Regions from separate parts of the Homo sapiens genome. Here regions 2, 3, 4, 5, 6 and 7 are each reported to be linked to region 1. Evidence: microRNA targets listed by miRTarBase, many of them from high-throughput screens and not tested one by one. Region 1 holds a microRNA gene; each other region holds the end of a gene's coding sequence.
What was found. The annotated mature microRNA hsa-miR-26b-5p reads UUCAAGUAAUUCAGGAUAGGU and lies in region 1 at 2,490-2,510, shown strand. An mRNA with a match to its seed (bases 2 to 7 or 8) in the 3' UTR can be bound and repressed. Matches are read on the target gene's strand: a 7mer-m8 pairs with bases 2 to 8, a 7mer-A1 pairs with bases 2 to 7 and ends in A, and an 8mer does both.

Region 1 (4,097 bases):
TGCGGGGAGGGGGCCGAAGCCGGGGCGCCGTGGGAGGAGAGAAGGGGCCGGGATCTTCCCCAGGGGAGCCGCCGCCGCCGCCCCGGGCGGCCGCCTTAGCTGTGCCCGAAGCTCCCAGCCCGAGAGGGAGCAGGGAGAGAGTTTGAACTCAGAGGAGGCTCAGAGACGCGGGGCGGGGCCTGGCGCCTTTGGGGCGCTCCTGTTCGCTCGAGGTGAGGAAACTGAGGCAGGAATAGAGAGGGAACTCTTCGGGGGTTTCCTGGCAGGCATTGCGTGGTGCATGGGCGCCCCCCCACCATTGGCGCCAATGGGGCTGGGAGATGGGGGAGCTGAGGAGGGCGCCTATGGGCCACCCGCTGAGACTCCGCCCCACCCCCCACCCCCACCCCCCCGGGCTGCGGTCCGGTAGGGTCTTGGGAGGGGGCGCCGAGGTGACAGCAGGCTGGGGAGGCTTGGAGGGATCTCCCGCCAACACACAGCTACGTTCCCCACAAACTTCGCGTCACGCGTGGAGGCGCCGACCCCCTCGGAGGCACAGAGAGGACGGCCGGCACTTCCAAGAGTCGCTTGGCGCCCGCGGGGAGAGTCGTGCGCCTAGTGGGCACGCACCACCCCGCAAAGCCTCGCCGCCCCGACGAGGCTGCGTCCCCCAGCGTGGCTGGGCCGGGGTGGGGGGGTCTGTCTTCTCCTTTTCCCCGTGTGGACCTCAGGATCTGGACGCTGCCCCCAGGTCTGCCCACCCTCGCCTGGGTCTGGCTGCCCCGGAACTGAGGGCAAGGTGGAAAGGCTAGTTGCAGGGGGCCGGAGGGGGGTGGGGTGGGAGGGGTATCTGTCAATCAGGCTGCTGGGCTCCAGGTCGGAGGTCTGGGCGGGGCAGGGCAAACAGATGGCCACTGGACACTGGCCCCAGGCCGCGGGACTGCACCCCTGCCTCTGGGCCCAGCCGCAGTGAGGACTTCGTACCCACGGGGGTGGAGAGGATGGAGGGAGGGCAGGGGTGGACTGCCCTGGGTCCCAGGCCCTGGCTGTCCTGAGCAGGGGTGCTCAGGTAAGGTGGGGTCAGGAGGCACCGCAATGGGGCTGATCAGCAGCAGTCATGGAGGCTGTGAGAGGCAGGGAGAGAGCACCCCAGGACCTCCTTCTCCAGGCCACGCACTCCCTATGTGGGCGCCTTAATACCTGCTAGACCTATTTGTCTGGGAGCTGCAGGAGCCTTGCAGTTGATTGTGGAGCCCTGACAGGGGCGTTTCAGAGAAAGTCAGGAGCTGCCTTCGTGTGTCTGGATGAAGGGGCCACGGCAAGATCCTCCTGGCTCAGGGGTTCACACCTGGGCACACATGCAGGATTCTGCAGGCCAGTGTGCACCGAGCCTCCAACTTGTGCCTCCCTACTTCAGGTGACCAGAAGTCAGCAGCTTCCCAGAAGCCCCGAAGCCGGGGCATCCTCCACTCACTCTTCTGCTGTGTCTGCCGGGATGATGGGGAGGCCCTGCCTGCTCACAGCGGGGCGCCCCTGCTTGTGGAGGAGAATGGCGCCATCCCTAAGGTGCGTGGGGGCCAGGTGGGGCCACGGGGGCACCTGGACTCAGTCTTCAGGGCTTTAGGGGAAGGGGCTCCTGACTGAGCTTTTCAGGATGGACTTGCAGACCTGAAAGGTGCAGAGTAGGAGGGTGGCAGCCTCCCCTGCCAGGCCCTGCCCACTGTGGGGAAACTGAATTCTCCCTCATAAGTGGAAGCTTTTTCCTACCTTGGTTTTTAGAGAGGTCTCAAAGAGCCAAGAGGCCTACCCAAGCCCTAGAGCTGGCAGGGGCAAAGCTGGGAAGGGGGAAGTATCTGTTCCTGGGGCCTGGGGTTCCTCTGGAGACGGCTAGGGGGAGAAGCCTGCGTGGGAGGAAGGACCAGGCCCGGAGAGAGGCACCCCAGCCAGCCCCGCCCTCCCTACAGCAGACCCCAGTCCAATACCTGCTCCCTGAGGCCAAGGCCCAGGACTCAGACAAGATCTGCGTGGTCATCGACCTGGACGAGACCCTGGTGCACAGCTCCTTCAAGGTGGGCCCTGCTCAACAGCCCTCAGCCCGGGTCTCGGGGGGCATCCCCCACCCTGGCCTGGGAGGGAGGTGTGTGCTGGACCCCATGCCCTGGGGCTCCTCCTCCAACTCCAGCAGCTCTTTTCCCCCCACAGCCAGTGAACAACGCGGACTTCATCATCCCTGTGGAGATTGATGGGGTGGTCCACCAGGTGAGGGCCAGGAAGAGGCAGTGGTGGGCTTGGCATCTGCCTCCAGACCCTAGGCTCTTCCCACCAATCCGGAGCGCCTCGGATGGGAATTGGATACATGTGGAATGTCAGAGGCCCAGAGAGGGTGTGAGACTTGTCCCAAAGTCACACAGAACCTCAAGGGCTTGTGCTGACTCCAAGCCTGCAGAGTGGGCTCCTCCTCTAGGCTCCCCCGTGCTGTGCTCCCTCGCCCCACCCTGCCCGGGACCCAGTTCAAGTAATTCAGGATAGGTTGTGTGCTGTCCAGCCTGTTCTCCATTACTTGGCTCGGGGACCGGTGCCCTGCAGCCTTGGGGTGAGGGGGCTGCCCCTGGATTCCTGCACTAGGCTGAGGTTGAGGCAGGGGAAGGGATTGGGAATTAGGGACCTCGTGAGGTAGGACTGGCCAGTGGAGTGGAAGTTTTGATCGTTTTCTGGCGGGGGGTGGGTACAGTTTCCCCAGCAGTGGTCAGGGTAGCTGGCCAAGCGGAGCCTGCGGGCCCAGTCTCCTTCCTGTGCGCCTCTGCCTCCCTGGCCCATGCCCTGCCAGCCCTCGGCCACCCCCACACTGCCCCACTGGCCCGCAGCCCCCTCACTGGCCCGCCCCCCAGGTCTACGTGTTGAAGCGTCCTCACGTGGATGAGTTCCTGCAGCGAATGGGCGAGCTCTTTGAATGTGTGCTGTTCACTGCTAGCCTCGCCAAGGTGAGCCCCACAGGGGTCCCGGGGCAACCCTGCCCTCCTACCTACCTCCCGCATGCAGCCCAATGAACCTGCGGGCCCCAGGATGACCCACCTCCTGCTCCCAGTACGCAGACCCAGTAGCTGACCTGCTGGACAAATGGGGGGCCTTCCGGGCCCGGCTGTTTCGAGAGTCCTGCGTCTTCCACCGGGGGAACTACGTGAAGGACCTGAGCCGGTTGGGTCGAGACCTGCGGCGGGTGCTCATCCTGGACAATTCACCTGCCTCCTATGTCTTCCATCCAGACAATGCTGTGAGTGCGGGCTGGACTGGGACTGGGACAGGAGCTGAGACCCAGGAAGGGGTCAGTCCATTCAGGCCACCTTGGCCTCTTGGATCCCCAGTTGGGGGGTGGGTGCCCTCCCAGTCCTTCCTGCATTCATTGCCTGTGCCTGCCGCCCACTCCCCTCATCCACCTGCCCTGTAGCCATATGGTCTTTTCCCCTCGCACAAAGCAGAGCATCTGCCATGCACAGGGGCCCCCACAGGGCAACGGAGTTTGGAAAGTTTCAATTTTTCGAATTGCCAGTTGTGACCTACTGATGGCCCACAGAATTAATTTAGTGGGTTCTGATTGGGAATTTTAACAAAATGAAATAGAATAGAAAATATCCGGTCGGGTGCAGTGGCTCATGCCTGTAATCCCAGCACTTTGGGAAGCTGAGGTGGGCAGGTAGCTGAGCCCAGTAGTTCAAGACCAGCCTCGGCAACATAGTGAAACCTTATGTCTACAAAAAATACAAAAACTAGCCAGGCGTGGTGGCGCATGCCTGGAGTCCCGGCTATGCAGAAGGCTGAGGTAGGAGTATCACTTGAGCCCTGGAGGCAGAGGCTGTGGTGAGCCAAGATTGTGCCACTGCACTCTAGCCTGGGCAACAGAGCAAGACCCTGCCTCAAAAAAAAAAAAAAGTATCCGAGTGCTTCGCACAGATAAGGTTAGGAATTGTGAAGCTTTTGCATTGTTACGTTATAAATGTGTTTTCCTGGGGATTGCTGTCAAAAAAGTTTGAACACTGTGGGTGAGGGGTTTTCAGAAACTGCATGATCTGAGTAGTGGCTACATAGGGCTGGCCTGGAAATTCTGCACCCAGGACCACCTG
Region 2 (4,000 bases), not on the chromosome of region 1:
CTGTGCCTGGCCAGGAAGTAATATACAATTAAATGAGTAATAATGCAGATGATTAGGCCTTATAGAACCCTTATCAAAAGACTAATTGGCCGGGCGCTGTGGCTCATGCCTGTAATCCCAGCACTTTGGGAGGCCAAGGCAGGGGGGATCACCTGAGGTCAGGAGTTTGAGACCAGCCTGGCCAACATGGTGAAACCCACCTCTACTGAAAATACAAAAATTAGCCTGGCTTGGTGGCGGGCACCCGTAGTCCCAGCTACTTGGGAGGCTGAAGCATGAGAATTGCTCGAACCTGAGAGGCAGAGGTTGCAGTGAGCCAAGATTGCGCCACTGCACTCCAGCCTGGGTGACAGAGCAAGACTCCATTTCAAAAAAAAAAAAAAAAAGAAAAAGAGACTAAGAGACTAATTATTTTGTATCTTGAAGTTTAAAATCCAACTTTTCTCTTTCTCCTTTGTGACATTAGAACAGTAGTTCTATAACTTCATTGTAAGAATCACCTGGATAATTCATTAAAGATGCAGATTCAGGGCCACGTGTTCAATTCTGATACAGTAGGTCCTGTAATAAGGCCTAGGAATGGCCATTTTTAAACAGTACACTAGGTGGTTTTGATACAGATCCAAGGACTCTAATTTAGAGGAACACTAGGTTAGAGGTTTCTCAGACCTGCAAACACCTAAGCACCTGGGCCAAACAAAGCTACAACGAAGATCTGTATGAAGATATATAGTTCTGCAGAATTTAAAAAGAGCACAATTTAAGTCTTCGGCCCTCAGAAGTTAAATTCATATTCCATCTAAGCCAACTTTGATTTTCATTAAGTTAGAATGAACTCCTAGTATTCCAGTATTACACAGAACGAAGTACTACTACTAACACATAGAAGTCATTACTGTGATATAAAAAGCAAAATAGATCCTTAATTAAAAATTAGTCACTCATATTCAGTGTTGAATAAGAAGTTAAAGTTTCTAGCATAACTATCTTGAGTGCATTAAAAATGCTTTTAGAGCAATAAGATAAGCTTCTAGCTGACTGCCTAGAAAAACAGAAGATACAAATTCAGTGTCAGAAATGAAAGGGAATACACTACAGACACTATAGTTATTAAAAGGCTAACTAGAAAACACCATGACCAACTCAAGGATTGTATATTTAACAACTTAGATGAAACAGATTCCCTATAGGATACAAACTAGAAAGCTCACTGTAGAAACAGATAACCTAAACAGAACCATATTTATTAAGGAAATTGAGTTTGTGGTTAAGTTAAAAACCTTCCAGTAAAGAAAACTACAGGCCCAGATAACTTCCGTGATGAATTTTACCAAACACTTAAGGGAGAAATAATATCAATTCTAAACAATCTCTTCCAGGAAACAGAAGAGGAGGAAATACTTCCCAACTCATTTTATTTGACCAGTATTACCCAGACAAAGATACTATAAGAAAAAAAACTTTAAAACAATGTCTTCATGTGCTAACATCTGTAGTTAAATTAGCCATTCTTTTTACATGAAATAATGGGAATTGGTATATTTCTTCCATTTCATTTTTCTATTTCTTTGCTAATATACCACCTGTAACAAATTCAATCTAGATGCTATCTGTCCACTTGCCTACATTTCCATTCTATTCAAGCCATTTTTGCTCTTCAAGTACCTTGATCACTTTGGAATCATAGCATTGCAAGCTATTTCAAAAAAAGTTGCGTGGTTGGATTGTGCTAGCTACTTTTAAATTTATAAAAAATGCCCCATATATTTTCTTGCTTGTCTGGGAAATATAGTTGCTATCTAACTAGAAAAATAAGAGGGCATTATTAAAGTAACTCTTTAAGCATCGTACTAAATGTTTGACTTCCATTAACCATATTTCTTGTAGTAGCTGTAGCTATTATGATACTGTGTAAAACAGAACAGGTTCTATATATGCAAATGACATTTTCATTTAATGTACCAAATTGTGTATCTAACTTTTATAATATAGGTTAAACAGATCCTTTCTAAGATGGCATTATTTAATCTTTACTTAAAACTATGAAAAATATGTGTAAGTTATTGTTTATAAACAGAAGAGACTATAATTAAAATATAGAGCAGATTCCAAGTGACCATCATTTTACTTTTTAGATTTAAAACAGAATGAAACAGAAGATTTAGTCATAAGAAGATGCTTGAAAAACAATCCAAGTATCCAATGCAGTGGCTATAAAATATTATTTCATCATTTAATCTTAATCATTTTGAAACAAAGACAGACTTCAATTTTACACTGCTTGCACTTTATTTTGTACAGACATTTCATTAATTATTACTCAATTTTGAGGTGCAAACCTTCTGAATATAGCTTTCATTTTGGACCAAACAATTTGTTATGGCAATAAATAATGATGCATTGAAAAACCAATTTTTGTATTTGATTTAATGCACTCTTACATTTAAGAAATTATATATACATTCTTGAATTTCAACTTACCAAAATAGAATAGCTTTTATTTAACAGCCTAAGCTTTTGTTTTCCTGACAAATACTGAAACTTTTTGTTACATTAATGCTGCAAAGTTGTTTATCACCTCAACTTTCTCACTGCTTTGCTCATAACTAAGTGTGATTACATGGAGAGAGAAAGTTTTGTAACAGTAACACATGATTTAGAGTTTAAAATCATATCAGAAGATGGGAATTATTTAAATATACCTTATAAAAATAAGTGGCTTAATCAATGAGAAAAAAACCCAGGGGTTTTTGGCTTATAATTAGAAAATAAGTATTATTCTTAGTTAATAGTTAATTAAAAAAAATCAACAACCTAAAAAGTAAAACCAATTCTGATGTGTTCAGTAGCTGAAAGATATGTATGTTTGTAGGTATAATATACAAATACAGACACAAACCATTACAGTAATTTTGAAAACAACTAGAAAGCTTATACTGTGTTGACAAATATCAGGTTATAAGAGGACTACCCCCTTTGTTTTAAGCAAACTTTTTCTGCTGACCGAATAGCTAGGAAAAAACTGGAGTTAACTGAAATATTTCTAACCAAAATATTACAAAGTTCTAAGAAACAACTCTATCTTCTAGATTGAGGTCAGCCAACTATACCCTGCAGGCCAAATCTGCCCAGCTGCCTCTTTTTTTTTGAGACAGAGTCTCACTCTGTCGCTCAGGCTAGAGTGCAGTAGCATGATCTCGGCTTAACTGCAACCTCTGCCTCCCCGGTTCAAGTGATTCTCCTGCCTCAGCTTCCCGAGTCCAACTGCTTCTTTTTGTGTACACCACTGTACTTTTTTTGCCTACTGGCTGCTCTTGAAGTACGATGGCAGAGTTCAGTATTTGTGACAGAAACCTTACGGCCTGCAAAGCCTAAAATATTTAGTATCTTGTACCTTACATAAAAAGTGTGCTGACTCGTGTTCTAGATAACTTGCTAGGGACAAATGGTCTCAGATACACAGCTTTTGGAGAACAAAGTCCAATGGTCATCTAAAATGAAATGAAATTAAATAATAGGTGTAGAAAATATACACATGTTCATTTCAAATATAAATTACAAGATAAAATCAGATCTCTTCAAAACAAATATTTAATATTTTAACCATTTTACAGGAAAGAAAATTTAAGTAACATATTTACTTCGTTGTTGACGTCATCATTTTACAAAGGTAACAAAAAGAGCAGTTCTGTGAAACTAAATGAAAAGCCTAACATTGGAAGTTTCCTTCAGCTTTCCACTTTAATGGCAGAAGATACCACACAGACTTGTGCGATGTCATCATATTCATATGTTCTCTTTAAGAATGTGTCTGTTAGTCTTAAGCCAGAGATGCTCTATTGAGAGAGAGAGAGATGAGTCTAAGTTTTCATTCATTCAGAGGAAATACAGACATCACAAATGACTTGTAAGTTAACAGCACCCAAATATTGGAATTTTTGAAAAGACAGCATACTTGCAGTCCCTGTACTGAAGAAAGCAGAGTAAGGGCAAGACAGAG
Region 3 (4,097 bases), not on the chromosome of region 1:
AAAACTCCAATAATTTTTTTAGTGCACTTTCAATGTTATTTTGTATTGAGTATTTGTCTGACTCTTAGCATTGTAATTCAGTAGCAGACATTTCCATGGTCCTTAAAATCCTGATTCAGAGGGGAATAACCCACTGGGAAAAATGGAGCACTAAGCTGAGTCAGTAGGCAGGAACCAGAGGCAGTAATAAGAACTGTAATAGAAGATCAGATGTCAGAGAGAAGCCTCCAGACACATTAAACCAAAGAATTATACGTAGGTGCTGGTTCCCATAGCACAGCAAAGCTGGGTTCTGGAGATGTTTATTCTTATCACTTCCACAGAAAAAAAACAGGACTTCTTTCATAGACTATATGCTAACTCAGACATTTTGCACCAAGTAGAAAAACAATGGGTCATGAAATACAAACCAAAACACTAATTTCACTAGAACCAGGGGTTGATTCAAGGTACTGTAAGAATTCTCGGAATTTAACACTTTTGATATTTTTTCATTTCAGATGCTGCACAACAAACATGTCATGGTCCGTGTGGGAGGAGGCTGGGAAACTTTTGCAGGGTATTTGTTGAAACACGACCCCTGCCGAATGCTGCAGATCTCCCGTGTGGATGGCAAAACATCCCCTATCCAAAGCAAATCTCCAACTCTAAAGGACATGAATCCAGATAACTACTTGGTGGTCTCTGCCAGTTATAAGGCTAAGAAGGAAATTAAGTGAAACAAATTGGTCATGACAAGGGGACCCTCATAATGGCCTGTATCCACTTCTCCAGTATAGTCAGTTTAGTTCATATGTTCTGAAAACTGTTTTGGAGAAAGATAGACAGAAAAATGTCATCATATTGAAAAATGTTCAAAGAGTAGCACTATTTATTTTTAATGCTTCTGTAGAATATGACCTATTAAAAGAAAATCTAAACTCAAATTTAAATTATCCAAATTTTAGGCAAATTATTATTTCTCAATATGCGAACACAGTATTTAGAACACAATATTAGAAACACAATTCTAACTAAAGATAAATAAGGAGAAAACATTTAGGATTTGCAGATAAGTCAACAGAAAGTGCCTGCTTTACACTCATGAGTAAAAGCACTCCAGACATTTTTATAATTGCAAGATTTTTATGCTTTTTTTTTTTTTTTTTTACAAAATGATGATTAGTGTGATAATGTGCTGCAAAAAATATCCAACAGCACTACACATAAGTACAGAGTATTCACAATAGTAATATGTTACTGGAAAGGCCACTTCCGAAAAGTTTACATTCACTTGGAAGGCTGCCTTAAAGTATATCTCTTATCTATGACCAAATATCTGGGGTACTTTTAGAAGTTTTCAGTACACCCCCTTAGAGAATAGCTTATGAGTTATTTCACACATTCCTGAGCACATGGCTGTGTTTAGAATGATCTAGTGTAATTCATACATGAGCTGACATACGTTGATACTTTGACGAGTAAATTGTACAGTCAAATGTTCATTGATTTCATGTTATTTCAAAGCATTTTCTTATTAAAAATATATCTTTAGTTAATCCTATTTTGCTATGCTTTCTAGTAAAGTAAATTCACTGTAGCTAATGATGTTACAGACTTACGTATACCCTTGTATACCTGGGACAGGGCTGTTTTATACCAATAAACAGCAAAATATTGTCCTTACTCATTCAAGAATTAAAAGGATAAATTTTAAAAATGTTATCTGTCTCTAAATCAATGCCTCATTCTGAAATCAAGTTAATTTTCAAATGGCAACTTTCTCCAACAGTTATAAGAAGAATCAAATTAGGGCTCCCTGGCACTTCTTCACTTTGGGAGATGAGTGATGGTGGTGTTAGTTTTCCTTAGCAGAGAGTTCAGGTTTTATTATAAGTGCTGCTCTCAGTATAAAAAGGATAGAAAATTAATTTTTCATGTATTCATTTTTCAACATCAACAAAAGAATCCACCTTTCTTGCTCCAAAAAGTCAGGAAGGAAGAATATTTGTCACATGACAAATTTAGTCAAAATATACATAATGTGTTAATTGAGAAGTTCTTAAATAACATGCATGGCATAATTTTGTAGTGCTGGAAGTGATGATAATCATTTGGGGGAGAGAAAGTCAGTGAAACCTAAAAAAAATAAATCGATTAAAAAAAAAACCCTGAGATGTTGTATGAGATAGTCACCTTGGTGCAGTGAATAATTCTAATATATTTTAAAATATAATGTTGAGTGATAAAGATTAAGATCTTTAAATTACCTAATACTGACACTGAGTTTCTTTGTATAGTTAATGACAATATTTCCATCAACATTTTCTCCTGTGCCTAAATTTGTTCCATAAGCGTATTTATATCCTTAATAATATAATTCCACTGCCTGTCTCTAAAACAAAAATTAAAGATAATAGTCAACTTCATTAAAGAAGTGTAGCTTAACAAAAGTAATATTAACCTCTTTATCTTTTGCATTAGTAGTTATCTATTGCTGCATTAAATTGCCACAAACTTGGTAGCTGAATAAGCATGTTTATTATCTCACATTTCTGCAGTCATTCAACATGGTTTCAATAGGCTAAAATCAGAGTGTCACCAAGGCTGTTTTCCTTCCTGAAGAGTCTAGGGGAGCATCCATTTCCTTTCCTTTTCCATCTTCTAGAGGCCACCTGCATTCCTAAGCTCCATGATTTCCTTCCTCCATCTTCAAAATCAGCAATGTAGCATCTCTATGACCCGTCTTCTTTCTTCACATCTCTTTCTCTCATAGGTTGGAAAGGTTTTCTGCTTTTAACAATCACATGATTAGCTTGGATCTACCTGGATAATCTATTTTAAGGTCACTAACTTGAGCACATCTAAAGAATCGACTTTGCCATGTAACAACATATTCACAGCTTCCAGGGATTAGGACATGAACATGTTTGGCAGGGAGGGAAGGATTATGATACCCATACCACATCTAAGATGGTCTTTTAAGTGTCACTGAAAACATGGTCACAACTGGCACTGGAGTCTAGCTGCTAGTCAATCGGCACCAACCAGGGATGTGAAAAAAACTGAGACTATATTCAGCCTCTTACTCCTCAACTCCTTATTGAAGACTGGCCAGGACATAGACCAAGTAGGTTAATGTCACCTTATTCTCAGCTAGATGTAAGATCCAAAGAAGGACAATGGAGAGATGGGTCCAATAGCCAATGAATAAAGGATTAAAAAGTCTAAATAGTCTAGAAATCTGGTTGCAAACAGAGTGGAAACATCTCAAACCAGAAGTTCAAGTAAATAGTAAAAAGGCCACAGTGAGAAATAATATCAACACACTGAGCAGACTAGGCTGATTCTGAAATTAGGTGACTCAATGCTATCATATTCAGTGTCTCCTGATGTGGGTGGGGACAGAATAGTACCTACAGGATACCTGGTAAAAGTGCTTGAATCAGAGACATATAAGGAATGATTTCAGGAACGCTGGGAGGTGTTCATTTTTTATTGTTAAGAAATTACTTGGAGGAACTGTTAGCTGTCTTGTCTACAGATTGTTTTGTACTAGCAAAAAGAATAGAAGCAGGGAGAAAGAGTAGAAAACTCTGGATCACCAAATGTAGCTCAAAGGAAAGAGGAACTTTGTTACAAAAATGATCCAAGACACAATGCCCACCTTATAAGGTACTTGACACTTTGTCACTGAAAAGACAATATCGACTAGAGTTGACTTCCTCAAAGATGTTACCAAAAGAACATTTAAGAACACTGGGTGAGTAAACTAAATTTAAACTTGTTTGTGATTAATTAAATTTTTTCTCAGATTCCTCTCTCTGGGTCATGTTGGGGCTATCTTTGTCCTTAGGGTTTCTGAAGACCATTGACTATCTCTCAGAAAAGAGCATGAAATGAGTTTTTCTAGACATATGAAGAAGGAAACCAACCAACTACATCTCTAATGTGTAAAATATCTTCAGATTAACCATGAAGTTATGAAATCTTATAATCCTCTCATTTTGCATTTTAAGGGCCATAAGGCATCAGAAAGTTTAAATAATTTGCCTAAGGTAAAACAGGTAATGGCTCTAATTCCAATGCTTTTCTTTTCTTAAAATTCTATTTCATGA
Region 4 (4,097 bases), not on the chromosome of region 1:
ATTTAGAAGAACACCTCTCTGTCACTTTATTTTTGTTTCCCTCTATGAAAAACAGGATTAATGCTTTTTCCATGACAAGCTGTAGTGGGTGTTAATTTACCTCATAAATTACCAGAAAATGATTAATAATGATATAATTATGAATTTGAGACAAAGGAGAAGGCTTTGCTATTAGACACTGCCTATTTATCTTACAGAGAAAAAAGACCAAATGACATGTTAAATATTAAGAAAAACTAATTATTGTCAGTTGTTTTCTCCTGAAATTCCTAAAGTATATTTTTTTGTTTTTTTTTCCCTAGAATCAATTCTGTTTATGGGAAGAGTGACAAATCCTGACACCCAGGAGATAAAAGGAAGAGATTTAGATTCACTGTGAATGAAAAGCACAGCCTCAGAATAAAAGATGATTTCTCAAAAATAGCTGATTGGCAAAATATCGTCATCTTGACAATATTTGCTCTATATCTTATGTCTTTTCTGTTTTAAACTGTGCCTGTAGTAATAGATATCTGTCTTGATGAATAAGTAAAATTAGGTATGCATTTGTTTCCATTCCTTCTGTATGTTTTAGAAAATCTATATGCATCTAAAACCTTGAGCGTACGTAAAATATTACCATTCATATGTTAGAACAATCCTGTCTATAATATCTTAAATACCAAATTCTTGTCTTAGATAGCAAATTTATTATTCCCTAAAATACTAGACTATTAGATTCAGGCATAGTACCATTTTCTAGCCATGGGGAAATAAGATAAAGAGACAATGGCCATGGTACATGCCTCTCTGGGGTGTCACTCAAGACACAGAGATCCAGTATTCCTTGCAATAGAGGAGCTTTGGGTATTTCACTAATCTTAACTTGTTATTTGACATGTTACATTTAATATTTATGTTGTTTCAGTACCTTTTGAAACATACCAGTTTTTTTTCTACTGATTTATGGTTTTAAAATGTACACAACATAGAAATGCTGAGCGCTTCTGTAAAGCATTCCTCTTTTTATAGGTGAAAGTGGCAGCATAATTAGCGTGACTCAGGAAGCTGAACTTCCACAATTTTACAATACTGAGCCAAGGAAGTGTTAGAGTCAAGATTGTGCACTATAAAGATTAAATGCAGATCCCTTCCCTTGAATACTCTGAAACATCACATCTAAATATCAAAAGCTAAAACTACATTCCAATATTACTTCATATAGCATGTTTCACAGTTTTTCCATTTTCAAGCTAATGATGTAAAATTCCTTTTTGTTTGTTTGTCTTGGCAATTTTGGCAGAGAGCTTAATGATAATAGCTGCACCTCAATGAGCCCTAATTTTGTGTTGGGCTCACTGAAGTAAGCACTTTTTACCTTATGTTAAATGTACTAAAATTTTTATGAAACAGCATTACCTAACTTCCTGATAAAGAAACTGAGATTCAAAAATGTTATAAAATTAGTCAAAGACACATAACTGATAAATATGGTGGGTAGATTTGAACTCAGAACTACTCGAGACTGACATTCAAAAATGTTATAAAATTAGTCAAAGATGCATAACTGATAAATATGGTGGGTAGATTTGAACTCAGAACTACTGGAGAGTGACATTGAAAAATGTTATAAAATTAGTCAAAGACACACAACTGATAAATATGGTGGGTAGATTTGAACTCAGAACTACTCAAGCTAGAAGTCTGTGACCTTAATTACTGAGTTATATTCCCTTTGCAGGGAAGGAAAAAGTAATTTTCTCTCTACTTCTCATAGCTTTGAGCTAGTATCCCTTGTAATAAAATACAGGATAGCCAGGTGTGGTGGCTCACATCTGTAATCTCAGCACTTTGAGAGGCTTAGGTGGGAGGATCGCTTGAGGCCAGGGGTTCAAGACCAGCCTGGGCAACATAGTGATATCCGGTCTACATAAAAATTAAAAATAATAGCCAGGTGTGGTGGCGCATGCCTGTGGTCCCAGCTACTCGAGAGGATAAGGCATGAGGATCACGTGAGTCCAGGAGGTTGAGGCTGCAGTAAACTATGATTATGCTACTGTACTGTAGTCTGGACAACAGAGTGAGTCCTCGTCTCAAAAAACAAAAGATTCACAAGAGAAAAACAGACATTTGTTAACATGTATACCACATGTACACATAGAAGACACCCAGGAAAAAATGAGTAAATCTCAAAGAAGTGGCTTAGAACTCTGGCTTACATAGCATCTTCGACAAAGAACAATACATGGTTGAAGAAATGACAAAGGAAAAGGACCTTGGATTTATAAGGGCAGTAAATTGTAGGAAGGCAAATATATGGTAGATAAAGGCTATTTTGTAAAATTTGTTATGTAGATTCCTGTGGTGATATCTCCAGGATGATAAGGGTCTTAAGTCATCTTCAGTGATCAAATTCTGTCCTACTTGGTAGAGAGAGGAGGAGGGATAACTTTGTGAATTTGTATTCTGTTTTTAGGCAAATTGTTTAGGCAAGGCAAATAACTTTTCCTGTATCTACTTCTTCTCAGTTGCCTTTAGCTCAAAATAACCCTTATGCTAAAGTGGCATCTTTTGGGGTGGCATATTCTGCTGCCCTCCACCTTCTATTTTAATTTTCAAAATCTAGGTATCCATCTACAGCAAAACCTACAGCAATACTCAAGACATTATGAAGCCAACTTTAGAATGAATTGTGATTGCTTAAAAATCATAACATAATTGAAAGCAATGTTCATTACTCTACTTTCAATTTGAGCATACTTAGATATAACACAGTAAATACTAATCTATATGTTAGTAATATGCATTTGTGGCATAAATTCCTCACAACATATCTGTTTTAAAAATATAAGTCTTTGTTTCAGGAAGGAGAGAATAATGAGTTAAGAGGATAGTAGTTTTATTCAGCTGTGGTCCAGATTCCTGTTTCTCTTGGGTTGGCTGAATTCTTCTGATCCTCTTTCATGCATTAAATGTCATGCTCTGGGGATTCATTCATTCATTCTACAAATTTTAATTGAGCTTCCACTATGTTCCAGGTAGTTTTCTAAGCACAAGGGATGTATTAGTGAGCAAATCTGACAAGGTCCTTGTCTTCCTGGAGCTGACATTTTACTGGTAGCAGTAAACCAGTGAACAAATACAAAAACAAGGTAATTTCAAATGGTAATAACTGATGACATTAATAAAGCAGAAGAAGAAAATAAGAGGGGTTCAATAATTGAGATGATGTAATAAGATCACTACCCAAGTTTCACTTTAAGTACATATTCTTACAGTGTGTTCCTAATGTATTTGTTTTCCTTAATAAGATTTGCTAAAAGTCTGCCACGAGTTCCCGACTGAGGATCCTGAAAGCATTATACAGAAGTTGGGTAATTTATTTTTCTGATTTCATGTTCTTCTTCCATTTGGCTTAAAAATGGGAGTGTCTTCCATAAGCTCATTGTGTGGATTCAAGATAAAAACCCCATTTTCTACCATGTTCTGGAAATACATTTGCCGAACTACTTCCAAAATTAAAACATTTAATTTTTTCCTTCAGTTGTAAGTAACTCAGTAGTTATTACAAGTTTGCATCATAAAGGTTACAAGTATATGGAATACATTTACAAAACATACATCTATTTATGAAGGAAAATAAGTATGAAATAATTTTCTTTGCTAAACTGTATGAAATCTGTAGGATTCACAACAGTCCATAATCAATATGGGATAAAATTACTGTCAATACCCCTTGTAAAAGTCCAGTACATCATATATAGGAAATATTTGTATTCCTCATGGAGGCAAAATAATTATTAAAATAGTAGTATTTCTTTTGGAAACTTTGGGTTTTATTGACTTCACATAGCTATAATTCATGGCGTATTCTAGAGGAGTTGTTACCAGACTGAACTTGGGTCTGCCTGCCTGGCACAGCAAGGCCAAACAATGACATTGGGATTTGCAAGAAGAAAAAGTGAGGCATTTATCGCAGGGTGGCAAGCAAGGAAAATCAGGCAGCTCATGCTTAAGATCTGAAATACCCAGTGGCTTAACTGTAAGAGTTTTTAAAGGCAGGGAGGCAGAGGTTACAGGCAAAGCTATAAATCAGTACATGGAGGCTATACGTTGGT
Region 5 (4,097 bases), not on the chromosome of region 1:
TCGTCCCAAAGATTCATCTTGAAGTCAGAAAGGAGAAGAGCTAAGACCTGCACTCTCTGGAGTAGCAGTGTGCAGCTTTCAGAGTTTGGAAGATTTTAGTCAACTAAATGGGATGTTATTATCTAAAACAATATAATCTCTCACATTGTGTTTCAGATACTGGATGAAGGTTATCAGAAACATTCACTGACTATCTGAAAGCATCACAGTGGGATGTCAGCGGAGACGTGGCTGTCTCAGGAGATTGGACGGAGGTGTGCTCTTCTTTAAGAAAACCCATCACAAAACAAAGCATTCCTACAAAGGAGGCACTGAAACGATTTCCTGATTGAAGAAAGTAATCACTATTAAGTCTCCTGGAATATTGTTCTCTCGTGGTGTGTTTAATTACATTTTCATGTTTAAGAATTATATTAACCCACAACTTTCCAGAGAAGAGCTAAATATACTACTGTGAAAGACAACGTAAACCAAACTGGGTTTTAGAACGTTAATGTAGTTAAGTACCAGGCCCTGCGATGGCCCTCTCTATTTCATAGAGATATGTATCCAGTGTCTCCTGATACACTTCTCAGTTGCTTGATCCAGGTGAGAAGAAAGAAGGGCCTAGATAAAGTAAATCAACAACTCTGCTTCATATCAGCACCCAAGTATCAAAGATGTAAGATACCATGCAGGTTCCTGTCTTCAGAGTCTTCCTGTTGATCTGAGTCCCCTCTTGTACAGCAAGCACTGGGACATGTCAAAATACTGACGACTCATCACTGAGTGATCGCCAAGGCAACAGATGATACCAACAGGACAGAAAACAGCAAGCCCTGTCTTCATTCTGGAGTCAAGAATGATGGACATCACACAGCTGTCTTACAACATAGCTCCAGAACAGGAAGCAAATATCCATGGCAAATAATTAGGAGCCAATGTTCTGCCTTTGAGAAACTGGAAAAAGACCTAGAATGGAGCACCTGGCCAAACTCTCTCCACATGTCTACCATCTTCTCCACCACGTGGATTGTAAATAACGTGGTCCATTTTGTACACGGAGAAATTTGGCCTAGTTTAGTTGGTTGAGGTCAGTAGGAATCTGAGTTTGTTCCTGAGTTTTGTAAGCCTGGTCATACCCAGGTCTCTGATGACACGTATTTGACCCTATGCTAGTACAGTACCAGGTTAAATCAATCTAGCTTACTAAATGAATCCCCCTGAAAGACTACACTACACTTCAGGGACAGTCTTTGCAAACTGCCTCATTAGTAAATATCAGATTCTCCTCCACTCATGTCACTAACAATTTAAGTGTCTCCTCTCCTCGAAAACCATTATTCACCAGAGATTGCTATCGGCCAGCAATGTTTATGTTTAAAGGCAGAGAATACAATAATGTAATTATCATCTAGAAATAAATTCTCTGGCTTTAGGTAAACATTTGTACTTTCCTCCTGTTTCTGGTCTATCTTGAATTTCATCCCAATCCCACTGTTTTATTTTTCACAGGAATTCATGAGAGTAATACACGTTAATGGCTTGGAAAAAAATAAAAAGCACATAATATTAAATCTTAAATTCAAGGTACCCAAGCAATAAAACTGGCATTGGTCAGCAACACCGTTACATGTTTAACAGAAGATGTATATGGAGAGTTTCACATACACTTACCCATTTGTATGCCTATCTATGTTTACATTAATTCTGCCACCATCTAGATATTAGCACCATTTTTTTAATAGCACCATTCTGCTGAACGGATAGGTAAAGGGAGACGTGGGATATTGTGTTCCATGAGGAGTATTAAGTGTATCTGTGCATGAGTCAGAAAATATGCTGCCCATCACATGAAGGCCACATCCTTGCCTTTCTCCCTGTCAAGAATTGGTTCTGATATCTTCTTTCATTTGAAGCTTATGCCCCTCCACCCACCCACTTACCCTCTTTCTCTGGGTTCAGTTCATGTAAGTACCTTCCCTTAGAAATCACTTTGTCTAGAAATTTGCTCTGAATTTGAGACCAAGCCTACTTTGACTTCTGGTGGGAGGTAGGAACATCCAGAACAAGCATTCTAACTTTCATTTCAGTTTCTTTGGACTCCCTGATTCACCTGTTCTCCCCAAAGTAAAAGATCTTTAAGACTAACTACATATTGGGTACACTGAGGAGTAGATCCCCTTTACCTTACTTTTTAGAAATGTTTTTTCTCTAGATTAGAAGTTTGCACTATGTTCTTGTACTTAGTACAATTTACCTGGTTCTTTGAAATATTTTAATATGGAACCTCCATTTTCCAACCTGAGAAGAGGTGAGGACAGGTGGCAGCCCTAGAGCTGGTCATAGTGGTCTTTGCATATACAGCCCCTGCAGCAAGACGATGGTGGGACCTGAGCTCAGGCCTCCTGTGGGGACTGGAGGATGGGAGGAAGTCAGCCAGGAAGACACATTTTCCCTTCTGCAAAGGAGTGTGTATTTGCCAGGAAAGTGGGAAGAATAAAGGCCCACAGTTCCTTTTCTGTAATATTAAGAAATTGATTTCTGCTCATTTGCATTTTACGAGTTTTCATAGAAATGCTCTTCAAACCAGAAGTGTTTTCTGTGTAAGTGACCTAAACCCCTTAGGCTGTGTTTCTTATGCCTGTTTCCTCTTAGTCTAGTGTCCCAAGGTTGGCAGGAGACTCTAAGCAGCCCAGATATGGAGCCCTACAGGGATGGAGGAAGAGACTGAGGGATGTAACCAGCACTTCCTGCCCTAGTTGAACATGGGGTGAAGAAAGCAGTCCTCTGCCTGGATGAATTAAAGGAATGTTCCTAAAGCTCCGCTGTGACATTTTAAATAGCAGCTGCCCCAGGCAGGGAGGCAAGAAAAAAAAAAGAAAGGTATTCATCAAGATAAATTAAGAAGATTATTTGTCCCCTGGGTAAGTGTTGCCTGATACTCTTGAGGTAGTCAGGGAAATAGCTGGTCTCTTTGTTTTTATCTTTAAGGGAGAACAAAAATACAGTATTTCACAAATCTGTCTAACCTGGCACCTTTCCCAGGAGCCGATACCAGGTGCTGCCTGATTCTCCTAGCTATTTCACCTTCCTATCAGGGAGCAGCAAGTACGGCAGCCTAGGCCTCCTGTGAGGGACATTCGGTGGCTAGAGGAACACAATGGATTTTGTTTCATCATGACCCAAAGCTGAATCTGAAATATATGAAGCAAAACCTCAACGAAGCAGCTCCCAGGGCTAAAGCATGTCATGGTCAGCAGGCTGCTGCAGTCTGGTGGAAGCTGGCTTCCTTTTGGGCTTAGAGTTCTTTTGACTTTTGGAGCAACCGTTGCCTTCTTTGCCTTTGGGTGTGTGTGATGTGTGTCTGGGGACACGAGAAGCAGCACTCAGCCCTCACGGTGGGCACAGAACATTTCTTCATGGCTTTCAGTGTCTGGCAGAAACTGGCTGACAGTTTGTCCTTAGTGCAAAGTAAATCTGTGGAAGGAGAAAAAGAATAAGAAAAAAGTCCAAAGATTATCCTTTGTGGATATACAAGCACAACTTCTATTAATGTAAGACTTTATATGTCTACCAAGAAAGGAGCCATAACAATTCATAATAGGTGGTATCTACTGAATGTTTATTATGTATCAGACGCTGTGCAGAGTGTTTATGCTAAACTGAATTATCAGTCACAATTCTTCACTCCCATGTAATTGTTTTATACAGAACATTCCCTCCTTGCCATGGCTGCCTAGTGGGTGGAGAATCCTTCCCAACTACTTGCCTTTGGGTTCAGCTCTGTGACTTGCTTTAGATAATGGGATGCTAGTAGACACGATCTCTGCAGTGACTTGGAATGTGCAGGAGGACAAGCCTTCCCTGATGAGCTTCTGCTGTCACCATAAGAAGAACCTGGCTGGTGCAGCCACCAAGGGTGATAAGAGACACATGGGGCAGACCTGGACTCAACCTACAGTTAGCAGCCAAGGTCAACCAAAGCCAAGCTCAATCATGTGAACCTTGGCTGACCTATAGATGCTCAGCAAAAAATACATGACTGTGCATTATATGAAAAAGACACACACACATGCATGTTTATAGCAGCACAATTCACAATTGCAAAGATATGG
Region 6 (4,097 bases), not on the chromosome of region 1:
GAAATTACATACTAAAGTGTTTCCTCATATGACAGTTTAAAAAATATATCCTCTGCTACTTACAGGAAATAATTTAACAATTTTCTTAGAGAAATGTTAAAAAAGTATAATAAAATGATGTAAACCATTTTGTAGGATCACAATTTTAACCCTTTTTGAAGACACTATATATAAAAAATGGAAATTATATTTTTTGTTCAACTAAGAATATTAAAAATATAAGTAGTGGCAAAGTGCATGTGGTCCTGTTTTAAAAAATGCAAACAATGAACTGTATGAACTACATAAAGTCAGTTTTTTAGATGCTTTGACCACTCTAGTAAAAAAATATTTAAAAGACACACAATAGTGGGAAAAATTTTTATTTTTATTTCTAATTGTGGTAGCATCAGGGTGGAAAAAATTTTATATGCTATTTAAATGTTTTGGTACAGTATGAATTTCTCACTTTTAAGAGAAAAAGGTAAACACGTAGAAAATATTTAAAAAATCATGAGTAGTGTAGTAAATAATATTGCATTTTTAAAAGGGAACTGGTGGTATTATTTACTAAGTAAGATCATTTATTCTTATTAGTACTTAATAAAAACAATGACTCATTATATGAAAAATTGAAAGGCTGAGATTGTAATTAACACCTGACTGCAATTGATGCTTATTTCAAAAATCTCTCTTTTTCCCCTCAAGCACTCTGTCTTATCAAGAACCCTTAAGAACATAGAAATGAATGGCAGAAAGAGGAGTCATATTTCAATACATCATGAAATTCCTTATAAAATATAATTTTGAGGAAATAAGTTAAAAACTTCGGAGTTTTTCCTTGCTTAAATATTTGAATCTAAATTATTTGTGCTGAACATTTCGTTATTTATAAATGAAAACCAATAAATGTCTAATTTTTAGTTTGTATGATTTGATGTAGAACTTAATCTCTTTTGTATGTCTTCCATCTGTTACAAATTAATCTACACATCATATTTTCATTTCCTAATGCCCATTGACTAGACTATATAGTTGTTTTCAATATACTGTATGTGCAAAAATTTCACATTCACATTCGTCATCATCTTTATTAATATTAAGGCTTTTGTTACCCTTAATTCAAAGTTTATGTCACTATTAAAGGGCCAAACACACTAGAGATAAGAAACTATATGCTGTATTAGAGGATCTGCCTTATTAAAGGCAGAAGAGACTGCCCTTCAGACTTTCTAAATGTAAAAAACTTTTAAAATTAACTGTAATATTTGCTACAACGTTAATAACCAAATTGTTTATGAGGTGGTGTACTACCATATTTGAACATGTGCTCAAATATTGTTAAAGAGACACAATTAAAGAAAGAATGACCCTTGGAATTTTATTTAATTTTATTTATTTATTTATTTATTTATTTAGAGACAGAGTCTTGCTCTGTCGCCCAGGCTAGAGTGCAATGGCATGATCTTGGCTCACTGCAATTTTTGCCTCCCGTGTTCAAGCAATTCTCCTTCCTCAGCCTTCCAAGTAGCTGGGATTACAGGCGTGTACCACCACGCCCGCTACGGTTTTTTTTTTTTTTTTGTATTTTTAGTAGAGACAAGGTTTCACCATGTTGACCAGGCTGGCCTCGAACTCCTGACCTCATGTGATCCACCCGCCTTGGCCTCCCAGGACTCTTGGCATTTTTACATTTTACACTTTCAAGTCTTTTTTTATATCAAATAATTTTTGGAATTATGCAGACTACAAAATCTGAAATAAGAGAGTTCTACAAGCATCAAAAAATGAGTGTCAGTATTATCAAGGTCTGTTAGAGACATGAAACAGCAACACTGTCACTTTTTCATTTGAAGTGAGAGTTATACTTCTAATTATTTCAGCTCATTCATAAGCATATGTAATAGCACTAGTACCCAGATACTAGGACCCCGATTAGGATTGGTTGTTGGTATTAGAACGAGTTTTCCTTTCTAGAAACTACTCAGTTTTTCTAACTCAAGATCTTAGTTTCTCATTACGATGATATTCTCAAATGCCCAATGTACAATTCTCTACTGCTGGGTATGAAATAGCTTCTTTTGGAAATGATGCCACAGCTGACCTAACTCTGTGGATTAAATAAGTATTAATTCATTCAATGTTAAACATGTATATTTCAGAACTGTCCTTGAGTTCATATTCATTATTTTAATTAATCTCCTGTAGTAGGTTCCCACAGTGGATCTCATAAAAATGGAAATTTAATTAAAATTAAATATCAACAGAAAAGCATTAATCTTTTTAAATAAATTTCCCAATCTATCAATTAAATAACATTATTGAGCACCTGCTATATCCCAGGGAACATGCTGGGTAGTACAGGATTCAAAATGATTAAAATTCACCTCGTTATTTCAAAGAACTCACAAAGTAAAAAACTACTTACTTAGTAAAAGAGATAAACTTGTACTAGTGATTGCAGACTCAAAATGGGTGATGATTGTGGCTTATCTAGTGATATTTCTAGTGAACTGGAGATGGCATGCACTGTTTAACCTGGACAACTACTTCGCTCAAGGTGAATAATTGTCATGGGGGAATATTGTATCCAGTATTGCCATATGTTCTGATTTGTTAATTGTGAAATGCACTGATTTTTATATGTTGCGAGGAGATAAAAAATTATTTAGGCAGTGCAGCTCAAAGTAAACTCCACATGCTAAAGAAATAAAAATTTTGAAAAGTGCAACAGTGGAAGCATGTACGAAGTAAAGTGGTGGCACAAAGTAGGTAGTATTTAACCTTTTTTTTTTTTTGTATGAATGTGGTATAGGAAGCTTCTTGGAAAAAAGTTAAAGTAAATCTGAGGTTTACAAAACTAGAAAACACACTTCAAGTAGAAGGAATGGCATTTGCAAAGTCAAAGCTCATACTCTATGCTAGGCATTACACCGAGCACTGAAAATAAAACAATGAATAAGACACAGACTGTTTCTGCTCTTGTGGAGCTTGTCTCTCGGAGCGGAAGAAAGATATAAGCAAATCCTTACAAAATAAGGCATGGCAGCAAAGACACCATCTTTGTCAGTAAACACCAGATGATACTGCCTAGTACTGGGTGTTTAAAAAGTCTTCAGTGAGGAAGTGATATATAAGTGACATATAGGCTGAGATTGGATGGGAGAAATGATAAGAATTCATGTAGAGAAAGAACATGAAATACAGCAAAGAACATGACATTTCCAAGAAGCTAATAAAAACCCAGTATGGATTGAGTGGAAAGGAGTGAAGGACAGAGAGGAGTATGCGAAACTTGGAGAGGTTGGAGCCCTGATTGTGAAGGCCTTTGTAGGTCAAATTAAAGATTTTGGAAGTCACTAAATAGAATGCGATGCTTACTGGGAATTTTTAAAAGACATCACTGACTGTAATATGGAGAGACTGATCTGAAGGGCAAAAAGTGTGGGCAAAGAGAAATCACTGAGGAAAACGAGGCAGTCATCTGGCAAAGATAAGGTAGTCACTTACACCGGTGGCAGCAGCAGGATGGTACAAAATAGGCTGAAATAAGATATTTAGGATGTGACATCATTATAATGATAATTGATTAGATGTGGGGGACAGTGAGGCAGAGAAAAGAGTTCAGGAGGACTCCTAGGTTTTGGCTTGACTAAGTGGCTATCTAAATATGATAGGAAGAATGGCAAGGAGAAGCAATGGGAGGGAGTGGGGATTAGCATGAAGAGTTTTATTAATAATTTTGGAAATGTGCTTTTGAGGTATCTGTGAGATAGGAAAGTGAAAAGACTAAGTAAGCACTTGATTTTTTTTTTTTTTTTTTTTTTTTTGTAGTCAGAGTCTCGCTCTGTCACCCAGACAGAGCTGGAGTGCAGTGGCACCGTCTCAGCTCACTGTAACCTTCTCTTCCCAGGTTCAAGTGATTCTTGAGGAAGCACTTGATTCTTATGGTTGATGCTTTGATGAACCACCTAGATTTCCTTCAGAAACACAAAGACTTACTTTTCCAGCTACTGGGAGCTCTCACTTATCAGTTCCCTAAAAGGGGTTGCCTCAGCTTAAGGGAGCCTCTTTCCCTAAGGTCATAGCTTCTTCCCAGGTTGGCCTACACTAATGAT
Region 7 (4,000 bases), not on the chromosome of region 1:
AGTCATGGCCCTTACATTTCTTTTAGCTAAAGGAAAGACCTGGGTGTGATTAAGTATGATACAGTGACATATTTGAGATGATGACGGTGTTACAAGAACTGAAAAAGCAAAACTCTGAGAACAAGTAAGATGCAGGGACAGCAGCCTCGACCGAAGAAACTGGATGAGGAAAGGTATGAAAGTATGGGAACATATTCAGTGCTGTGTTCAGCATGGCTAAACCGGGAGTTAGCACATTTTCTGTAAAGAGCCAGAAGGTTAAGTATTTTAAACTTTGTGGGCCATGGGTCTTTGCTGAAACCACTCAGCTGAACTGTCGTAGTGCAAAAGCAGCCAACACATAAAACAAACCTGGCTGCGTTTCAATGAAACTTTATTCATAGGCACTGATATCTGAATTTCATAATTTTCATGTCACAAAATATTCTTTGTTGACGTCCCACCCCCCAATGATTTAGAACTGTAGAAGCCATTCTTAGTTTGTAGGATAAACTAACACAGACAGCAGTTACTTAGTCTTGTATTAAACCACAGGGTGTACTGAAAGATACACCATAAAAAGCTGGATGGCATAAAACTTAAAATAGTTGTGGCAATTCATACATTGATATTACTACATAGGTGTAAAATCATATATATTGTAGAATGTAGTTAACTGCATAGGAATATGCTCATGATGTATAAAAGAAAAATAAGCAGCTTACAAAATATGTATTACATAATTCCCAAGGTTCAAAATATGTACAGGCTAAACTGATGACATTTGATGACCTGGGTGTTGGGATTTATGAATATATTTTCTTCATTTTGCTTACCTGTATCTTCTAGAAGGAACATGTATTAACTTTGCCTTCCTCTTTGTTATTAGCTATTAATGAATTTTAATGAAGAAGCAACATGATCAGCGCATATCTTAAAATAATTCTGACACTACCCTACAATAAGTGATGTATTATGGGGGATAATGACTAGATACCGGGAGACAATTTAAGAGGCTCGGTTATAGTCAGAAAAAGACACAAGGTACTCAAGACAGCAACTGTGGGAACAGAAAAGTAATGTAGGCCAAATAACATAAAGAAGGATGAGGATGAGGACAAAATGACTTCAAGATTTCCATCTTGTGTGACTGTGACAATGACAGTGTCGGGGAAAAGGGGTGGAGAAAGAGATTTGGAGGCAGATGATAATGATTTTTTAACGTAGTGAGGTGAACTGTTAATGTGGTATTCAGGTCTGGTTCTGGATGTCATGAGAAAGGTCAGGACTTGATAATGTATATTCAGGACTGAGAAATAATCTAAGAGAAAAAAGGAAGGTGTAAGAATGCCATGTTACAAAATCCAGGGTATGAAGTTTCCAAGAGGGGCTTGTCAACTAAAATGCTAGAAAGGTCACATGAAGAGAACTTTGGATTTGGTCACTGGTGGTTACTGGAGACCGAGGGTATATCAAAAGCTTGTTTGTTCCTTTTCCCTTCCTGTGAAATATCTGAACAGGTAGCAAATAATGGCTTGCTGTTTGTTTTGTTTTTTTTATTTATCTTGAATTAATGACTCCATCTGTTTCTCATATTTGGAAAACCCAGAATGTACACAGTGTTCTGGAACAAATGTATTCTGTCCAAGTGGAAGCCGGTTAAGTTCCGATATCCTCAGCTCGACAGAACATATTTGTGCACTGCTCTTCCTGTTCTTAAACTGGAGAGGAAGTCAGGAAGACCCAGTGGTTACATAATGTCACCTGTCTCACATCACTTATGTGGGTGGGTAAGGGGCAGCTGCTCAGATTTCATTTGGTATCCAAAAAAGGTGCAAACGGGAAAAAAGGTCTGGGTTGTTCACTAAGCACAGATAGGCCAGTGGTTGAATTTTCATTCCGGCCCATTGACCTTGTGGGTAGTGTAACTCACTGAGTCATTCTTTTTAATCTCTACTCTACATTCACATGTGTTCTATGAGAATGCTAGCGAGAAGTACATTGTGGCCCTTAGCTAGAATTCTTTAGCCAAAAGTCCTGGGGCTCTCTTCTCTGTAATAGAAGATTGCTAAACCCAGAAAAGTCTTTGAGTCTAAAACAAGTGGTCTTCTAAAAAGGCCTAAAGAAATCTAGGCCTTTATTGAGAGTAGGAAAACATCTCTGGGAATGGAAGCTTTTTAGATCTGTCATTTCATGGGGCAACAGCAGTCCAGTCTCCTAGTGCTCAGGCCAATTTTCTACACAGCCTCCACAGAGAGGCCTATGTAAAGTGTTAACCACATTTAACAATGAGGAATGACCAGAACATGGATAGTCAATCTGGGGGGAGAAGAACAATAAAACTAGAATGCAGGGGCTAAGGGACAGATGAAGAGCCAGTTCAGAACTCTTTTGGAACACAGGAGCTTCCCATTCCTTCCCTACGTTCAGTGGGTTGCTGAACGGTATGGAGCTTCTGCCAGAGTAAGAAGGCTGTATTACCACAATGGAATTAAGTCTCCAGAGCTGCTTTTGATGTGTTAGCCTAGACCCTGTGTTCTCTGGTCTTGAGGGGGTGGGATGTGCAGTGTGGAATCAAAAAACTGGATTGTGAATTTTCTGCAAAAAATTACTGTCAATTTTACATACATATAAAATTATATTTTTATGTAAAATTATATATATATAAAATTGACAGTAATTTTATATATATATAAATAAAGTACCTACTATCTGTTTCTGAATTTAGCAAATGTTGATTTTAAAAAAGTTTTCAGTAAGTTAACTGTTTGGAAGACTTGTATTTTTTATTACCCTTGAATATTAAGGCTTACATTATTTGTTAATGGGAAAAAAGATTTGGCTACATTTTTCCTAGATAGAATGAAATATATTTGTTGACTGCCTTTTTTCCCTAAGTGATAACAAACAGAAGTTAAGAAAGTATATTTGTTGGGGGTGGAAGCATTGCATCTGTCAAATGATTAACTCCACGTGTCAGTCTTTTGGTAGACATTTTTATCTGAGGACTTCTCCCTGTGGCAGATAAACATAATAATGTAAGACTGGAATATGGAATCTCACAGTTAAAAGTTATCTTACATTTGTAAAACAGTAATTTACTACAACTTGTCTTATGAGATAAATGTTATACTCTCTATATTTGAAAAATGAGGAAAACTGAGGCTCAGAGAAGATTAAAAGACTTGCCTGAGGTTATAGAGTTTTTAAGTGCCATGGTCCAAATCACATCTTCTCACTCAAAGTCCAGATCACTTTCCAATACACCACAATGAAATACAACAATATGGAAAAAATAATCCTTAAGATTGAATTTCCATTTGTACAATATTATTACAAGATTTAGCACTACATTCTTTATCTAGATAAGACAGGGGATAGACGATGGTGCCTTTACAGAATGCCAGCTTATCTCTTAATCATCTCTAAATCCTTGGACCTTTATAAGTCATTTTACAAAGCCAGGACTCAGCATGAGAAAGGTTGAGACCAGTGAAATTCTCATCAATGATGTGTACTGTGGGCTGATCATCACACCATTTAGATATTATTGTTCTATTTGTACAGCTTAAGGTTGTTAAGATGTACAAATCAATGCAAAATTGCTATACCCTCTACATGCTGGAATTTTTGCCTTGCTGTACTTGTTCACTATCATACTTTTTTCAAAATTGGTATGAATGCCTTTCATTTTTAGCTGTTATTCTGTACATTTCCTTACTGAATATCATTCCATTTTCATCTCAAGGTAACCAACGACATTAGAAACTATCAGTTTCGTTTTAAGACAATGGAAGCCACTTTCTGTGTCCACTGTAAGCTTAATTTATATATTCTGTTTTTCACTTGTTATCACCCAGCTTAGAATTGGAACTGCGATACCTCTTTTTTAAGAACGAGTTTTTTTAGAGACAGATTCTCAGTCTGTGGCACAGGCTGGAGTGCAGTGGCACAATCATAGCTCACTTGCAGCCTCAAACTCCTGGGCTCGAGTGATATTTCCACCTCAGCTTCCCCAGTA

Region 2: the mRNA of TRAPPC13 is a reported target of hsa-miR-26b-5p. Seed matches in the 3' UTR shown: 7mer-A1 at 3,228-3,234.
Region 3: miRTarBase lists GAS2 as a target of hsa-miR-26b-5p. The part of its 3' UTR that is shown has no 7-base or 8-base seed match.
Region 4: the mRNA of SERPINI2 is a reported target of hsa-miR-26b-5p. The part of its 3' UTR that is shown has no 7-base or 8-base seed match.
Region 5: miRTarBase lists ADAMTS12 as a target of hsa-miR-26b-5p. The part of its 3' UTR that is shown has no 7-base or 8-base seed match.
Region 6: miRTarBase lists F13B as a target of hsa-miR-26b-5p. The part of its 3' UTR that is shown has no 7-base or 8-base seed match.
Region 7: miRTarBase lists TUSC3 as a target of hsa-miR-26b-5p. The part of its 3' UTR that is shown has no 7-base or 8-base seed match.

Annotation. Positions count from the first base shown.
Region 1 is chr2:218,400,168-218,404,264 of GRCh38, forward strand. It overlaps MIR26B (microRNA 26b), which reads left to right and starts at 2,479; the gene lies at 2,479-2,555. CTDSP1 (CTD small phosphatase 1) reads left to right here. Exons shown (of 7, transcript NM_021198.3): 2 at 1,397-1,545; 3 at 1,944-2,048; 4 at 2,182-2,238; 5 at 2,868-2,960; 6 at 3,065-3,250. RefSeq lists a silencer at 1-148.
Region 2 is chr5:65,664,340-65,668,339 of GRCh38, reverse strand. It overlaps TRAPPC13 (trafficking protein particle complex subunit 13), which reads right to left. Exons shown (of 13, transcript NM_024941.4): 12 at 3,956-4,000; 13 at 2,107-3,836. The coding sequence ends at 3,729. It overlaps SGTB (small glutamine rich tetratricopeptide repeat co-chaperone beta), which reads left to right. Exons shown (of 11, transcript NM_019072.3): 11 at 1-2,412. Among named protein-coding and RNA genes, the nearest start is that of TRAPPC13, 41 kb to the right of the region's middle.
Region 3 is chr11:22,811,298-22,815,394 of GRCh38, forward strand. GAS2 (growth arrest specific 2) reads left to right here. Exons shown (of 8, transcript NM_001143830.3): 8 at 501-1,704. The coding sequence ends at 719. Among named protein-coding and RNA genes, the nearest start is that of LINC02718, 16 kb to the right of the region's middle.
Region 4 is chr3:167,438,391-167,442,487 of GRCh38, reverse strand. It overlaps SERPINI2 (serpin family I member 2), which reads left to right. Exons shown (of 9, transcript NM_006217.6): 9 at 303-555. The coding sequence ends at 379. Among named protein-coding and RNA genes, the nearest start is that of SERPINI2, 34 kb to the left of the region's middle.
Region 5 is chr5:33,523,908-33,528,004 of GRCh38, forward strand. It overlaps ADAMTS12 (ADAM metallopeptidase with thrombospondin type 1 motif 12), which reads right to left. Exons shown (of 24, transcript NM_030955.4): 24 at 1-3,459. The coding sequence ends at 3,281. Among named protein-coding and RNA genes, the nearest start is that of TARS1, 85 kb to the left of the region's middle.
Region 6 is chr1:197,036,002-197,040,098 of GRCh38, reverse strand. F13B (coagulation factor XIII B chain) reads left to right here. Exons shown (of 12, transcript NM_001994.3): 12 at 688-1,358. The coding sequence ends at 721. Among named protein-coding and RNA genes, the nearest start is that of F13B, 29 kb to the left of the region's middle.
Region 7 is chr8:15,757,024-15,761,023 of GRCh38, reverse strand. It overlaps TUSC3 (tumor suppressor candidate 3), which reads right to left. Exons shown (of 11, transcript NM_006765.4): 10 at 3,169-3,233. The coding sequence ends at 3,215. Among named protein-coding and RNA genes, the nearest start is that of TUSC3, 220 kb to the right of the region's middle.